2 linked regions of the Homo sapiens genome follow. Changing the gene in region 1 together with any one later gene gives a genetic interaction. Each region holds a gene or a part of one and is shown on either strand. Other genes may lie near its edges.

What was found.
Region 2: of TIMP3 (region 1) and AGTR2, extra expression of one is lethal in a mutant of the other (dosage lethality), as found in Homo sapiens cells (one study listed by BioGRID).

The regions. Positions count from the first base shown.
Region 1 is NC_000022.11:32,846,085-32,854,169, reverse strand, and holds part of TIMP3 (metalloproteinase inhibitor 3 precursor), read right to left. Parts: intron 4,719-8,085; coding exon 4,636-4,718; intron 1-4,635.
Region 2 is NC_000023.11:116,165,402-116,174,470, reverse strand, and holds the start of AGTR2 (type-2 angiotensin II receptor), read right to left. Parts: upstream 3,728-9,069; 5' UTR 3,655-3,727; intron 3,504-3,654; 5' UTR 3,444-3,503; intron 2,226-3,443; 5' UTR 2,191-2,225; coding exon 1,099-2,190; 3' UTR 1-1,098. UniProt on the Homo sapiens protein: Receptor for angiotensin II, a vasoconstricting peptide. Signals primarily via a non-canonical G-protein- and beta-arrestin independent pathways. Cooperates with MTUS1 to inhibit ERK2 activation and cell proliferation.

The DNA of each region.
Region 1 (8,085 bases):
TGTGTTTTCTGTGTAATAATCCTACCTTGATTTAAATATTGATTCTAAAAGTATCATGTCTGTAATCATAGAGATCTAGAATTGGTTTGACAAATTTAGGAGAGTTATAATAGGTTTATAATGTCCTGACATCAGAGAATCCTAGAATCTCAGAGTTGGAAAAGATGTTAAAGGTAATCTAATCCAAACCAATGCCATGGAGATCAGTGGTAAATTCAGGTTTTGGAGGCTGACAGCCAGAGTTTGAATCTTCAATCTTCTCTGCCACCTGTGTTCGCCACTTGGAAAGTTACTTAACCTCTTTGGGTCTCAGTTTCTTCATCTGTAAAATGGGTCAAAGCACTTCTTAGGGTGTTTGAGAGAAGCAAATGACTTAGAATAGCAGTCAGCCCACAACATTCAATAAAAGTTAGCTTAGAACAAGTTATACTGAAATTCGTAAGGAGAGGAGGAATGAGTTTGGTCCCCTTTCTCCTAAGTCCCTTCCTCAGCTCTTAACAAGAGTAGTTAAAGCTGGTTTAGAACTTCAGACATAAGTGGGTTGTTCTTTTTCAGCTGGGTTCTGCATGCCTCTGGGCCCCTCTTCTTCTTCTTGGTAGCATCTACACAAAGTTCCAAGATGTTAGCTTCCCTTGGAGTGAAGGGACAAATAAAGTAAAAAAGAAGTTTCTGAGTCTGGGGACATTTGCATATTTCTTATGAAATGTCTGGCCTTCACTCTACATTGACAGCATGAGTTGCCTCAATGATTCCAACTATGTCTTGCATGCCTACCAAAGATCAACACTGTTCTGGATGCTGGTGTACATCACGGACTCATTTAAACCCACAAATTCTTATTTACAGACCGACCGAGCTATCACGGCCATGATCTTTCTCTATACAGCAATTTGTCTAGCAGGACAGGCAGAGAATGTAGAAATGGAGCCAGTCTCTGCAGAGGGCTGGATGAGAGTCCTAAGGCAGGAAGAACCACGGGCATTGCAAGAAGAATGGTTCCCTGTGGGCTGGGGGTCAAAGATGCTTCCAGCTAGAGCTTCAAAGGCGAGACCCTGCTATTGCTCATTTGGTTAGACAAACCACTAAAGGAAGGAAGTCCCTGGAGGTCTGCTCTGCCTACAGTCAGGACATGCAAAGCACATGACCAGCGGGTCTCCCCATGGGACCCTCCCAGGACCAGCTGGGACATAATGTCCCCCACGTTCTGTCCCCTGCAGCCAGCTGGAGAGCATGTCTCCGCTACATAAACAATAACTCCTGGCACAGTGGATCGGTTTCTCATGGTCCTGATGGGAGATAAGGTCCCCACAGCTTAGAGCAGCCAGTTCTGGAAACTTTCACCTTCACCCCACAGCCCAGCTAATTTCCAAGTTTGGGATTGCAATAAGCTCTCTCAACATTCTAACACCCTGCTCCCTCACACACACACACATATCGCAGGTCTCTGTGTACTGAAGTGTTCCTGAGAGATGGGTCAGAGGCTCCAGAGTTAGCAGACGGGAGAAGGTCTGCCTGCCTTCCATCAGTGAGAGAAGAGAGAGGTCAGACAGGGCGGCTCGGAGTCTCAGGTTCTCCAAGTTCCTTTAGTCCTGCTCTAAGGAAGCCCTTGCTCACCCCTTCTGACTCTCTAGGGTAGACTGTCTAATCTGCTAGAACAAAGTCTCCCAGGGACCAGTGCCAAAACTCATGCAGGCTTGCCTCTCTGGCCTCTCTCTCTTCCCTCCTACAAAGATTTTTCTGATACACCCTTTGCAGGATATTACAAGTCCAGCCCTACACTGCTGGATGATAAACCAACAAACCCAAACTGACCTCTTTTTGTTCCCTGGGAACTAAAAACATATGGAGTGGGCATTTATATACCCCAAAGTGGGTAGGAATGATGAATCAGCCTGCTGCTCCATACTGTATTATCTCCTTATAGGCAAAGACCCTGTAGTTTTGCTCAGGTTTGCCACTTTGTGGCCATATAATCTTAACAGTTATATGACCTCCCAGGTCTCAGTTGCCTCACCTGTCAAACAGAGGACAAGGTGTTATCTATTTTACAGTGTTAGTATAAGTACTGATCTATGCAAAGACCTAGCAGAATGCCTGGCACTAAGCAATTGCTCAGTAAATGTTAACTGATGCCAAGTCTTATCATAATTATAAGCAGTGTTATCTTTGTATCCCCAGTTCATAGTACAGTACTAAGCACAGAGAGAGGGTGGGAAGGAAGCACGAGAGGATGGATGGACGGACTATTACTTCTAGCCTGTATCTTGTCTGACTTGCAGGCTGGTACCTAGAGACAAGCAGATTCCAGTGGTGTCTCTGGATAGAAGGGCACTGACCAGTTCTATGGATCATGATACCCTCTATGGAGGGTCAGAGTGAATGAAAGGCATGAGATGGTGACTGATGATTAAGATGGCAGGGAGATTTGGGAGTCATATAAAGAACACAGGATTGGGAAGAAATTCCGATGCCTCAGCTTGGGGATCAGATCTGCCCTTAGTTAAATGCTTGACTCTGAGTAAGTCATTTCCCCTTTGCGCCTCTGTCAGAAGTAAGACGAGGGATCCTACATCTAATTCCCAGCACCATGATTCATGAGCTCAGGCGAAGGATGGTGAACCGAAAGCCTAAGCCCACCAGTCTGGGAGTGGGAGTGTGTCTTCTAAGCCCACCAGCCTGGGAGTGGGAGTGTCTGATGCTGATAGGCTAGCAAGTGTTGTTTGGTCTCTAAACAACCACCCGTGGCTGGTCTGACACCAGCAAGGGGGAATGGGACATTATGTCCACAGGAAGGGCCTCTGGTCACCCTGGTCTCCAGGCCCTGATGGTAGGAAGGAAACCAGGCAGGCTTAGGAACTGCTGCCTCCCAGCTATTTCCCTCTCAGCTCTCTGCTGACCACCGAGTGTCTCGTAATGAGGATTGTTCCAGACCAGGCAGGTTCGTGTGTTTTCTGAACCTCTGCTTTGGTCTAATATGCTTTGGCATTCCCGCGCTGTCTGCCAGAGGTTGCAAAGTGGGCTTTTTGCGTTGTTGTTGCTCTTGCTGGTTCCCCACCCCTGCCCATTTTTCTCTCCCCAGGGCTGTCTGAAGACATAAGCTGGTCTCATGACCAAGCTTAGGCAGCCAAGGGCAACTGGCCAGGGCTGACTCTGGACATTACATAACCAGAAGGCTGTGGATGTTTGCAAAATTGAATCCAAAGCAACAGGTTCCACAAAATTAGTACATCCAGCCTCAGGACACAGGAATAAGAAAGCCTGGAGGTTGGCCTTGGGGATGGTTGGGTACCACCGTGGGCTGCGTCACTCCTCCACTCCCTTCTACCTGGACATTGCGGCTTGTCTCCTCTGGGGAGTTTCCAGGCCTGTGGGGTCTCACCCTCATGCCCGTATTAGACAGATAAGCATTCACCAAGTCACTTTTGCATGCCAGGTCCTACCCTAATTGCTAGGGATGCAAATATGAGCAATAAGTTAAAGGGCTGGACAGTTCCTGTGGACCTCAGCACACCCCACATTGAACTTCTGATGAGTCACACACATACCTGCCTCTTCTCTCCCAACCTGACTCTAGTTCCTAAAGATGGAAACTGTATCTCCCTCACGGCCTCCCTGGCTCCTAGCTGGGAGCTCTGCATGTAGAGAGGTGCTTACAAAGATGGGGTGATGAACCAGTTGCTGAGTTATTCAAGGTGAAGCCCCAGTCTTCTGTGCTAAGGCAATCACCAGTACACCCTTCCATTGTATACCACCCGCTCCTCCTTACAAGTAACATGGCCCGCATCCCAGGGTGCTTAGAATGCCTGAGCTAGAGAGGATGTTAGGAGCACCAAGCCCAACCCCACACTGTTAACAGGTGGCAAAACTGCGGCCCAGGAAAAGGGACAAGCCCAAGGTAAGCAGGCTATTTAGGAGTAGAGGTGAGACTAGGAGGCAGGTTCTCTAGATTTCAAATCTGGTGTTCTTTTTCTTAAGGGCATACCTCCTTCCTGTACTTCATGATGTTCATATCCTCAGTAATATGTTTAATGATAAGAATATGCTTAGCAAACATTGCTAACTATCTAGGATGCAAGAAGACAATCAGCTGGGAAAATAGGGAAAGAAGGTGAAGTTCCTGCCTTGGGATGAGGTTCCTGTGATCAGCACAGTTTCCATGTAAAGATTTGAGGGCTGTAAACCTAAGCTGTAACCTCAGTGGCTGCATGAAACCTGTAAGCACTGTTGAGTCCCAGATAGTCAGAGCTCAGAAGAGTTCATAGAGATGATCTAGTCCAACCCCCTCATTTCACAATTGGGAAGATTAAAGCCCAGAGAGGGGCAGTGACTTGACCAAGGTCTCATGGTTACGAGCTAACAAGGCTATCTGCCATCTGGCTCCAGAGCTCAGCTTCCTAACAAGTGCCTTGGAGTGACTCCACCTGCATGGGCTCTTGGACAAGGCAGCCCCATGCCCCCTCCCTACCCATCCCTTTATGCAGCCTTAGCAGCTCCCTCTCCAGCAGGCAGAAGGGCTGGGTCTGGCTGGTGCTTAGACACACACCCCAGTTCCAACCCACTTTGCCTCCCTTAGCCAGGACTCTTCTGGCAAAAACCCAAAAACCTTCCCGGAGCCAGGGTGATGACATTACCTACCTTCATCTGCTTGATGGTGTAGACCAGCGTGCCGAAGGGCCCCTCCTTTACCAGCTTCTTCCCCACCACCTTGGCCCGGATCACTGCAGAGACAGAAGGAGACAATAAGAGGTTAGGAAGGCCTGAACCACATCAGGAACAGCATCTCAGGGCGGGCACGCTAGCCTCTGTGGAGCCTGGAATTGCACTCTTACCTTGGAGCCAACTGGAATAGATGATTGTGTTTACAAGAGTGGGAATTCCCTGGGGTGAGAGGGAGGTTGGAGGAAAAAGAAACAGCCACCATTCAAGTTAATTACCCCAAATATTCACAATTGCCAGCTCCAGAACTTCCAAGGCTATAGTCAACCCCCGCCGACCCTGAGGATTTTCTTGACTTTGTGACTTTACCATAATCCAAAACCTACTTCTCCTGTTAGAGCCATTGTCCCCCCTCCCTTGTCCATCTGACAATGCCATGGTCTCCCAGATCTGTTCTCTTTCCACTAGGACCCCTTTCTAACCACCTCATTTGGGGCTCTTCCTTTGCATGCATTAATTCACCACATCTTGACATGTCTACAGGGTTGTGGTGCACCCTAGCTTCCCACAGTGCCCCCAGTTAGCATTCTGATTGAGCCCTTGGTATCCAGTGCTTAGATAGCAAGGGATGCAATAGAGTCTGAGCTCTATGGGGATGTGGTTAGAAGAAGGAGCAATTGGGAGTCGGGGCTCAGGAGCCAGACAGAACTGTTCCAATCTCAGCTCTGCTGTTTATGGCTATTGCGACTGTATGCAAGTAAGTAACTTTGTTTCTGGCCTCCTCTTCTATAAAACAGGAATCATAATGATACTAATCTCTTGAACTGAAGGGATTAGTCAAGATGACAAATGTGAAACTCTTGATACTGTCTTGGACATAGTTTGCACTAGACAAATATTATTAATATCATCATCATTATCATCACCAAAAATGAAATGGGCTAACCATGGAAGGGCTGTTCCAATGAAAACAGCTCCCATTTATTGCACACCTACTATGTGCCATGTACATTTCACTTATTTACTGCTCTTAACTGTCTTACAAGGGCAGTATTAGCATCCACATGATCTAGATAAGGTAACAGACCAAGAAGTGAAACCACTTCCTCTTTCTGAGCCTCAATTTTCTCATCTATAAAGAGGGTATAACTCTCTTTACATCAGGGAATTGGAATCAGGATTGAACGAAAGATCTTATGAAATTTCCCACTACAATGTCTGGCAGAAAGGATTTACCCAGTAGATACTAGTTAACTATGAATACAAAAGTAATTACACCCAGTGGGTTGAGGGCTGAAAGAGAGGCATTTACCACATGCACTGGGAACAGAAAGAGGAGAGGACTTGACTTTTAGATTCTACAAGGTTGTGCTTCTCTTTCTACGTTGTGTGAAAAAGAAGCACCCAAGAGCTGTCTTCAGGTATTTGTAAAATTGGCACATGGAGGAGCAAATGGACAGGTCTTGAATACCAAAACTGGAAATTGCAGAGAGTAACATTCATTGGCTCAACCAAAGAAAAAAATCGTCTAATAATAAGAACCAGCAACAAAAGGCAGGGGGGCTGCCATTAGGGCAGAGAGTGCCTCTATCAGGGGGTGTGATGAGGGTGCTGGATACTTCCATGCTAAGACCTCAACAGGAATTGGAATGGGGCTTGCTTATGCAGTCATACTTTGAATTACAAATTGAACTCCTTCAGCCCTGAGATCCTATCAATCTTTCTTATCTCAAGTTGCACTTAGCCCAAAAAGGAGTAGATACTCAATAAATGCTTGTTAAGTAAAATACCCTTCACACACACAAACACAAACACACACACACACATTTTGGTAGCTCCATTATCCTTCCTCATTGTGGATGCTCCACTATGTATCCCAGTTATTTGACTCTAATCTCTGTTTTTAAAAAATCTTTACTAAGAACTGATTCCTCATCCATACTGGATTCTGTCTTGTTTCTTTCCAAATGAGCTTGGATCCTACCCTTGCAGTCAGACATGAAGTCAGGGTTCAGATGAATCAATGGCCCCTTCAGACCTTCCCTGCCGGCGATGGCAAAACACACAGTCATTGGCAAAGTGAGCAATTTAGCGGAGGCAGCTCAAATTAGGAGGAGGCGAGTGGTTGTTTCCAAGTCTGCTGTAAAAACGAGAGGTTGGCAAGATCCCAGGCCAATGTCTGTCAAGATCCTGCATCCACCTCTGTTTCTAACATTGCGGTAGTATTCTCGGCGACAAGCCAGCCTCCCGGAGGCCCCGGGGACTGTTTCCTCCATATTAACTCTCACAGGCAGGTTATAACAGCTTCACCTCCGTGCAGAGGCATGTCTGCCAGCCTTTACCACTGATTCTTCCTGAAATGATTTGGACCCATCTTCTCTGCCTCATTAACACAGAAGGTAAACAAGGGAGCGAGTCTTGGCCGGGGGGTGTGGGAGGGGCAAGGCAAAAGGGATTCCTTTAAATAGCAACATCCTGGTTCAAAAATGGCTTGACTTGATTTAGACAGAAGATGTCACAAGCAGACCTGCCCCATAAAGCTGAGTACTGCTGGAAGCTTCTGCACATACAACCAGCCAACTCCTTCCTTACCCCAAATAGCCTGAGCTTGGAACCTTTTCATCTGAGGATAGTTCAGTGAAAAGAATACGTTTTTGTAGTCAGGAAGCTGCATTGAAGTTTGGGTTCCACCATTACTGTATGATCTCTCTGGGGCTCTTTCCTCCTGAATCTCTCTGGCTTTCTTAGCCCAGTGCCTCTCATGTGGCTAACAAGTGATTTGCTTATTACTATTGGAGCAGCAACATAGCATTGCATTAAAGAGCCTGGTCTCTGGAGCCTGAGAGCCAGGGTTCAAATCCCAGCCCTGGTGCTGGGTGACCTTCAGGAAGTTGCTAAACCTCTCTATGCCTTGGTTTCCCAATCTGTAAGATGGGAATGATGAAACAATGCCTCATAAAGTTGCTGTGAGGGTCGTATTAATATAAGCGCTGAGAACAGTATGTAGTCCATCCCAAACCTCATGTGTTTGCTACCACTGTTATTAGCATTATCACCACTATGGTGATGTCTATTTTTATTCCATCTTAGGGCATACCATCTTCAGACTTCTAACATGCACTGTAAGCTAAGGCCTGGGAGTTCTCCCTAGGATGAGAAGAAAGGCAACCTCATAAAAATATTCTAGCCTTACAGAACTTCAGGGAGAGGTGGAGAAGCACAGATGAAGTAGTCAGAACAAGTATAGGAGGTATTTTGGGATCAGGAGTGCCTACTCTATCACATGTACCCATCCCACCTTATCACCCATGTGTAACCCAAGAATTGCCTACTAAGACCAGCCAAACAAGATCACAGTCATGGTTCCAAAAGTCTGAGGCAGAGATGGCCCAGTGAAGAGGCCACATCAGTGTTTTCCTTACAAAAACA
Region 2 (9,069 bases), on another chromosome or scaffold:
TATATTTTCAAAGTCACATTGTACTGCCCTGACAGGTTCCTTTCTTGGTACCAAACATGTAATTGACTGGGTCTCTTTGCCCCCACCCAGACCCCATGTAGCAAAATTCCATTCTGGATACCATTTCCTATGCCAGTTAAGGGTTTATTACAAGTTAAAGAGTTTTTTTTAAGCCACCCAGATATTTTAGGAAACAACCCAGAACCAAAGCATTAATAATAAAAATCAAATCAATGTCCTATATATCAAAGCAGCACATCTAAAAAGTCAAGGATGTGAAAAGTGACCTTTACATTTTACAACAATACACAGTGTTTACTGATTTCAAAAAAGTATCAGAGAAAATAGAAACCTTTAAACAATCATTAAAATGAGTAGAAAGTTTTTTAAAAAGTGCTTATTCAGAGTTTAGTGAACACACAAATATTATAGATTGCAATTCTATGTTATAGTACATCTTGCTTTCTATAACTGTAAAAATAAGCTAAAGCATAGGAGTATGATTTAATCTATATTCCTAGCCCTATTCAATATGTAGTTATAGATTAACTATAAACCTCCACTCAAGTGAAATGCAAGAGGAATATAATTTATAGCTTTTTTAAAGAAGCATATGCCTAAAGCCTGAATAATCCAGTACTAATCTATTATAATATACTCAACTTAGAAGTGCTCATCTCTCTTACAATGTTGTCTTGTAAATGATGCAATGAGTTGAAAGACTGGTTCTGGTTCAAGAGGAAATCCTGATAAAAATGGATATAAAACCCCACTAAGAAACACAAGCATGTTTCAAAGAGAAATCTGAATCCCCAAATCATTATTCACAATCTATTATTAATTACAATTTGAGATATATCACCAGTTACTTCTAGGTTGTAAATATGTCTCACTAATGACAATCTTGTACAAACATATCAGAAAAACAATGGGCAATTCCTGAAAGTCACTGGACGATAAAACATAGTTACATTTGGTTTCAGAAGATTCAGAAAAGATTAGGGGAAATTTTATTATTTTATTAAAACCACTTAAAAATAATTCTGGTGAGCCTCAAAGCAAGTAGCCATGTTGATTACATGCATTTTGCTCTCACGTTTAAGACACAAAGGTCTCCATTTCTCTAAGAGAACTGCTTTTCCGGCAAGACATACTCTCTCTTTTCCCTTGGAGCCAAGTAATTGGAACCCTAAACACACTGCGGAGCTTCTGTTGGAACCGGTTTCCAACAAAACAATACAGAAACGGATTAACGCAGCTGTTGGTGAATCCCAAGAGGATGGCAAAAGGAAGTGCCAGGTCAATGACTGCTATAACTTCGCAGCTATTAATGACACCCATCCAGGCCAGAGCATCCAGGAAGGTCAGAACATGGAAGGGAAGCCAGCAAATGATGAAGGCCAGAACAACAGCAGCTGCCATCTTCAGGACTTGGTCACGGGTTATCCTGTTCTTCCCATAGCTATTCGTCTTCAGTAAGTGTTTTCTAATTCCAAAATAGCATGTTGCTATGAATATTAAAGGGATAATAAAACCAAGGATATTTTTCATTAAGGCAATCCCAGCTGACCATTGGGCATATTTCTCAGGTGGGAAAGCCATAATGCAAGCATTCACTCCTAAGTATTCAATGGTTCTGACGTCTCGAAAATAAAATGTTGGCAATGAGGACAAACAGGCCATACACCAAACAAGGGGAACTATATAAGATGCTTGCCAGGGATTTCTTCTTTGAGACAGAAAGGGGTAGATGACAGATTGGTACCTATCAACACTCATGCAGGTGATAAAAAAAATGCTTGCAAACATGTTCAGGGTAAGAAAAGAACCAAAAACTTTGCACATCACAGGTCCAAAGAGCCAGTCATATCTATAAGAATAATAGGTTGCCCATAGAGGAAGAGTAGCCAAAAGGAGTAAATCAGCCACAGCGAGGTTGAAGATGTATATGCTAGAAACCTTTTTAGGACCCTTTTGACAACAAAACAGTGTAACCACGACAATATTGACCAGAAATCCAATTACAAATATAATGTAGTAAAGAATAGGAATTGCATCTAAATGCTTATCTGATGGTTTCTGTGAACAGTTCAAGGTAGACTCATTGTTGCCAGAGATGTTCACAAGCCCGAAGTGAAGACCGCTGGTAATGTTTTTGCTAGTAGTGGCAAGGGTGGAGTTGCCCTTCATATTGAAATGTCAGCAGCTCCTAGTTCTTATGCCTTCTGTGGAGAAAAAACATAGAACTCTTAGAACACATACAGAGCTGAGGACATCCTTGAATCATTAGCATTTTGAATGTTTGTCAAAAGCAAAAAAAAAGTGAGTGATTATAGAAAACATTAAGAAACAGAGCCATGGCTTGTAAAACAAGAATTCATTTTACCTCTTGAAAAAGGAGAAATAATTTTCCTGATAGTAGAAAAAAGACATTTCAGAGATTCAAAGTTCTGAATAAAACTACCTTTTGCCCATCTTTTCTATGATGTTTTTGAAAGATTTAAAGAAAATTAATATTTCAAAAGATTAGTCAGGGCAGGAAATGTGTGAAACAAATAAGAAACCCAGAGGTAAGAAAAGTTAATCTTTCAAAAAACACTTGAGCATATATCTCTGTTTGTATACTTTCTAGAAACCACACTGCTGCTTGCTATTGCATAGAGAAATGCTCTATTTAAGTAACTAATTACATACAAATCACTACAGCTGTGGAAAATATAAGTAACATAAGCAATGGAAAAAATAAGTATATAAAAAACTAAAAGAGAATATGCCAAAGGAACATATTGTGATGGGGAATCATGGTTTGTCTTTAATAATTAAAAATAATTCCTTTAGTTTTACTTTTCTATTGTTTTCACAATAATAATATAGTTAAGAAGAAGTTATGAAATATATTTATATTTCTAAGTCTTCTCCTTTTAATAGAGAATATTAGTTTTAGATATAGATATCTAATTTTGGTCTATTTAATATCTAAACAATCCATTTTCAATTAAATCAGATAAAGAAAAAAACAGCCAAACCTATGTTAGGTTCAAGTAGAAGTAGTTTAGATTGCTCAGTGAAATGAGAAATGAACATCAATGATTAATCATGATATAGTCTTATCATTTTTCTTTTTCTCTCTTTTCGGTTTAACCGAACTGAATAGCCGTTGCTCTCAAACGTTACAGTGTTGAGGTTTTTGTGATTTTTTTCACTAGAAGCATTATTTTAAAACCAAAAAAAAAAACACATTAGCTAAAGATAAGCATACAAAGGAAACACTATTTACTTTAGATAGTTTCAAAATACATGCAAATAAGCTACCCAATTAAAAGTGTAATATCTAAAGAACCTCCTAATAAAGAGCAAAACTTTTATTTTGCTCTAAAGATTTTTCTTTTGACCTAACAAATTAACATAAAAGAATCAATAATAAATTCCACTTGAAGACTTACTGGTTGTTGAAGTTTAAAGCAGTTATCATAAATCAGCTTGCTTAGTGCCTAAACACACTCCTGTAAGAGAAACAGCAGCTAAATAATTCAGGAGTTTTGCAAAATACAGTGTTAAAACACAGGAAAAACAGAAGTTCATCCATAAAAAATATTTTCATTTAATGTATGTTCTACTTTCCAAGTAAATTATATATAAATTGTTCATACTTACCTTCAAAATTCAGGCTGCAGAATGCTTTGAATTCTGTGCTTACTCGTTCTCTCAGACGCTGGGACGTAATAGCACCAGATCTCTGGTTTCCTTCTTATATGTTTGGTCTGTCCACTGGGAGCCTTCAACCTACATAATTCTAGGGCTGACTTATGAACCCTTGCCAGCTTTCCAGAGAGGTTTTTTTTTGTCTGCAAAACATTAATCTGAAATTCTCACTGTCTCCAATCATAACAGCTCATTCAAATAAATCTCAAACAAAAAAAATGAAGTTTCCACAAATGTGCTAGAGAATTTTGAAGTCAGTGGCTTACTTGGTAGGAGAAAAATATAGTAATTATTTACAGAATTTTCTCTTCCTTTTTTCCTGATATTGGCATTCTAATAGAAATTAGTGAGTAGAGACTAGGAAATTTATTATAGTAGCAAAGTCTTTGTTCATCAGCTTTCACAACCTTCATTACTTTCTGAAATTTTTACCCCTGTTTATTAAAGAATGGTAGGAATTTTACTTGAAGTCTACCACTTCTAAAATTTCTCCCTTGCTTTGCGCAGTTTTTGTTGGCTTGTTGCTGGAGGGTTGGAGATTGCAGGAATATAATTTTTACACGACCAAAAAGAGGTTTAGTCTCCTTTCATAGGTCTCTGTCATATTTGTGGTTTAAATACAAAGCACATAAAGTGAAGAGGGATTCGCTAGCTATTTCAACCTAGATCACTGTTGCTGCTGTCTCTTGTGGCAGTGGGGGCAATAAACTACACAACCAATCCAGCAGAAGCAAGAGTGACAAAATGAAGAAAGATAAGAACAGGTGATGGTAGTGATAATACTAGCTGACAATAAATGTTATGTGCCGAACACTGTGATGAGTTATTTATCATCAATAATTTAATAGAGAGGCAATATAGCACACTGGTTAGTAAATAGCCTCTGGGATCCAACTACCTGGCTTTACAAACCCAGCTCTACCACTTACTAATTCTGACCTTGGCCAAGTTACTTTACTTCTTCATGTCTCAGTTTCTCATCTGAGAAAGGAGAATGATATAAATTACCTACATCGTAGAGTAGGAATTTTAAATAAGCTAATGGAAAATTAAATGAGCTAATATGTTTAAAGTGCCTAAAATCATGCCTAGCATATGGTAGGTGCTATTACAAGCTATTCATATTAGCCCCCACTTTACAAATCAGGAAACTAGGACTCATAGAGTTTAATAACTTTTCTGAGATCATACAGCTATTAAATGAAGACACTTGCATTTAAATCAAAGGAAACTAATATCAGAACTCACGCTGTTTAGCCTCTATACCACAAGAGGAAGCACTAGATGGTCCCTTAGTCTCACTCTTTGTCTTGGCAAAAAGGAAACGTGGCATTTACAGAAAATCACTGATGACCATTCATAATCTATCATAAAAGCATCAAAGAAGGGGAAAAGAATTGGAAGAATTGTTATGTGGGGAAACGTATTTTTCTTAATTGTATTGCCCAAATGGAGACCACAGGAAGGAGAAACTTGTGACTAGATGGCTTTCTATAGTTAGTACAGAGAACCAGAGAACCTAGAGCACATTTTAAATGGGCAAAAAGATTCAAGTTATTTCTGTGGATCATATTTTTCAGATAAGCAGCAAGAATGCACCTGTCCATGCTGCAGGCCACAGGTAAAGAATGAGGGCAGGCTCTGAGGAAGTAGCTGGGCACCTAAGTATGGAGTTCAGCAGAACAAGGAAGGAGAAGTCAGTGTTGATGACAGAAGACAAAATTGCAAATGGCATGAGACAAATCACATGGCTTTTGATATCTGTCTGTTTCTCCATTAATATTAAAGTCAATACTGTAGCACACAGGCAGATGAGATCAGTGAGAAGTCATCGTTATGTGAAAAATACAGTAGGATTCAAAGGTTTGCATAGGCCATCATAAAGTTTGTTTGGTAAACAGTTTGAACATTGTCAAAATGCCCCTAATATATGTATGCACCATTTTACTAAATCTCAAAATATTTGTTTCCTATGCTCTGGACAGATTCAGTTGAGGCTGAGGCTCTGTTAAAATGATGGAAAACTTATGTTTCAGAAACAAATGAGGGGGCACATATGTTTATCAGCAGGAAAGCTGAGATGGAAACTGTTTTCACTCATTGTTTAAACCTGGTTTCTCCCTCCATTTCAAATGTTTGTTTTTGCCACATAAAGGGGAAGTTTCCAGGCCAGGGCCTCCCGAGTGGTCACAATGGGTCAGATTCTCACCCTGCTCTTTTTCTTGTACCCTCTTAGGCCCCTTGCAAAGAAACAGCCAGGAGGTGAGCTATAAAATTATGAGAACAAACTACAGGCTTGTCTCCGGAAGACCTAGCCTTGAACACCCACAAGGAACAGGGGACCTTGTCTAGAGCTTTTGTCCTTCATTACAGTAAGTTCTGACATAAATAAAGTTTAAAGAGGTACATATTTCCCAGAAGATTAAAGGGCCATTTACTCTGCGTCTTCATAATCTTAGGAGTAATTTTTTTCACAAGTCAAAGAAAAATTTTGTAACTGCAGAGAATTAACAAAAAGTTTATAAAAAGAATAGCAATAATATTGACACCACTTGAAGAAATACTGTATATTATTGATTCAGCAAAGAACTCCCAGTTAAGCCAACAATGTAAATACACTTGAGAGTCAAATAAGTGTCAGTCCTGGGAAGCAGTACAACACAAAAAGTTCATTCTCCTGGGAGTAGGGAATAATTTTTCTGCTGGTAGACTTACTTAAAAAGTTTCAGGCCATTTGAATAAATTATGCAGCTCTGCAGGACAAGTGTAGCTGAGCTAGCAGAATTAAATAGTAAATCACATTAAATTAATTTTTTTCTAATGAATACCTGTTGTTTATTGTGAGATTACTTAACAGTAAATTTTAAAGGACTAAGCTAAAAAAGTAAATGTTCTTGAGAGAAATTCTTCCTCTGCTAGAAGGTTACAGAGTTCAGAACAAATTTTATTTGCCGCCTCACCTCCACCCACACACACAGATGAAACTTCAAAGGAGAAAAGAAATACATAAATGCAAAAATGCGTAAAAATTCTAGACATAGTGCCCTGGTTATAGAGGTAAAGATTAGAGGTACAGATTACGGAATGATTTTAATATATATGGGTCTTCCTTTTTAATCTAGGTCTCTCAGAGTCATTTTAACTTTCCCCAACCCCAGCCACCACACTGAGTGCCAATATCATTGCCACTTCTCTCAACTTCAACACACACACACACACACACACACACACCATTCATACCCATGTACCCACGTACATACTTTATACCAACTTTTCTTTAATTCACTTACCCATAGAGTAGCCTTGCTTTAATTGTCACTGGACTTTTCCTAACCTGGGGGTCTCTAAAAGGAGGGTAGTTAAGAAGATTGCCCATTATTGATGAATCTTTGCATATTATTTTTGTGCCTGTCTGTGAAATGTCACAATTAAAGCAAATGGAAAAAAAAATAAGGTCTTTTATTCAGAAATAACAATCAGATTGGCCATTTTGTAGAAACCAGCTTAAAATTCAGTGAAATGCCCAACATGAGTGATTATTTTCATCAAACTACCTCTTTGTCTACGCATCACATGAAAAGTGACACAGAGGACTATTAAGTAAGTTAAGGTGAAACTGATGTAGTGAGATGAATGGATGTCAGACTCAGTACATTCTTGAGACCAGCTGCTTCCAGCTGAATCTGGTCCCAAGAACATAAGGAGAAGGGAGAGTTCTAATTTCCCTTTGCCCCAAAGACAGCTTCAGGCCTGAGCACCATGTTCAGACTAGAATCTTGCAAAAGGCACCCTAGTTCTATCCTCAAATGCTATATAACCCAACTGGTGGAAAAAAATTTTAAATGAAAATTATCTATATTTTTGTTTACATTCCAAATATCAGCTAAATGATTTGACATTTCTCCCACTGATATGACTAAATTAAATAGCTTGACTAAATTATCCAAAATTGCCAATTGACTAAATTGGCCAAACCAACAAGCTGTCTTGGAAATATTTAAACACCACTCTTAGGCGATGGGGATGTTTTGGGGGGATGTTTTGGGGAGATGTTGTCAGGTTAGAACTCTCATAGGGCAGTGGATCAACAAATTGTTAAGCTAGAGTTTGGTCCTTGAGCTTTAGGTCTAGATATTGAACTTTCTCAGAATACCCAGGCTCTCAGTGATGGCTCATGTCAATCAAATTATCTCAAAACTGATATAGTACTTTGATTGTTAATTTATTACTTTGCAATAGAGATATACTACTTTCCAGTGACCACAAAGATTGCGTTCCTTATCTGAAGCACCCTCTTCATCTCCATCCCAATATTAGGAAACAAGGTAAATCTGGCTTGGTAACTTTGCAATCAGATCAGGAAAGCTGGTAACTGGGAACCTATTTTGCTTTAGTTTCGGGAAATTTCTGTCAGGGATTATCACTCGGGTTGCCAGATTGATGAGCCCTCCAAGTCATTCTCTCAACAGTTTTGCCTCTCTGAACCCTGTTTTTCTGGTAGTCACCCCATTCTGTTGATACATTATTTGAAATATTACTATTATTGATGAAGCTATAATTAAGTCCCTGTCCAGGTGGCCTAGAAGTAATTCAAGATCTGCTTTGATTGATTGGACAAATTCTCAAAGCTGGAGATTAGAGAGAACAATCCCTCACCAAAGAGACAGGGAAAGAGGCAAAATAATCATCTCTCCAAAACTGACCATCAATTCAGAGCAAATGGTTATTTAGCTTTGTTTAAGGGAGTCATTTACCCCAACCACTTTTCAAGCTCCTAAAAGGATACAAAAACAAAAAAGAGTTGTACAATTTTGGATATTTTTGCTTTTGAGCTGCAAAACAACGTTGTGCACATGTATCCTGAAACTTAAAGTATAATAATAATAAAATTTGAAAAAAAAAGAAGATAGAACAAGATGACAGGAAGTTTGGGGTGGTGTTCTGGGTGGATCTTGAGGTTTTTACTCCAAGGAAATGAAAACAGGAAGTTTATCACTAGGAATTATGAGAGTGCTTGAGCTTTTAGATATTTACCCTACAGATATTTGAATTCGTGGTTTTCAATAAGGATTTGTAAAATGTACAACGGGAAAGCAGAATTTTTACGGTAAATAATTTGCAATACACCCACAAAGAAACTAGCTCATACTTGGGTATCTAGAAGTTGACAGCTTTCTTTACAATTAATTTATTGCATGTTGTTTCAGCAGTAACACTCCTATTTTTTATTGGTTATATTTTATACTGATCACACAACTGAAATTATTCTTCTTTTAATTGTTTTTTTAAACTGAGATATAATTTACATATGAAATGCACCGTTTTAAAAATATATTTAGTATATTCATGAAGTTGTGCAGCTATCAC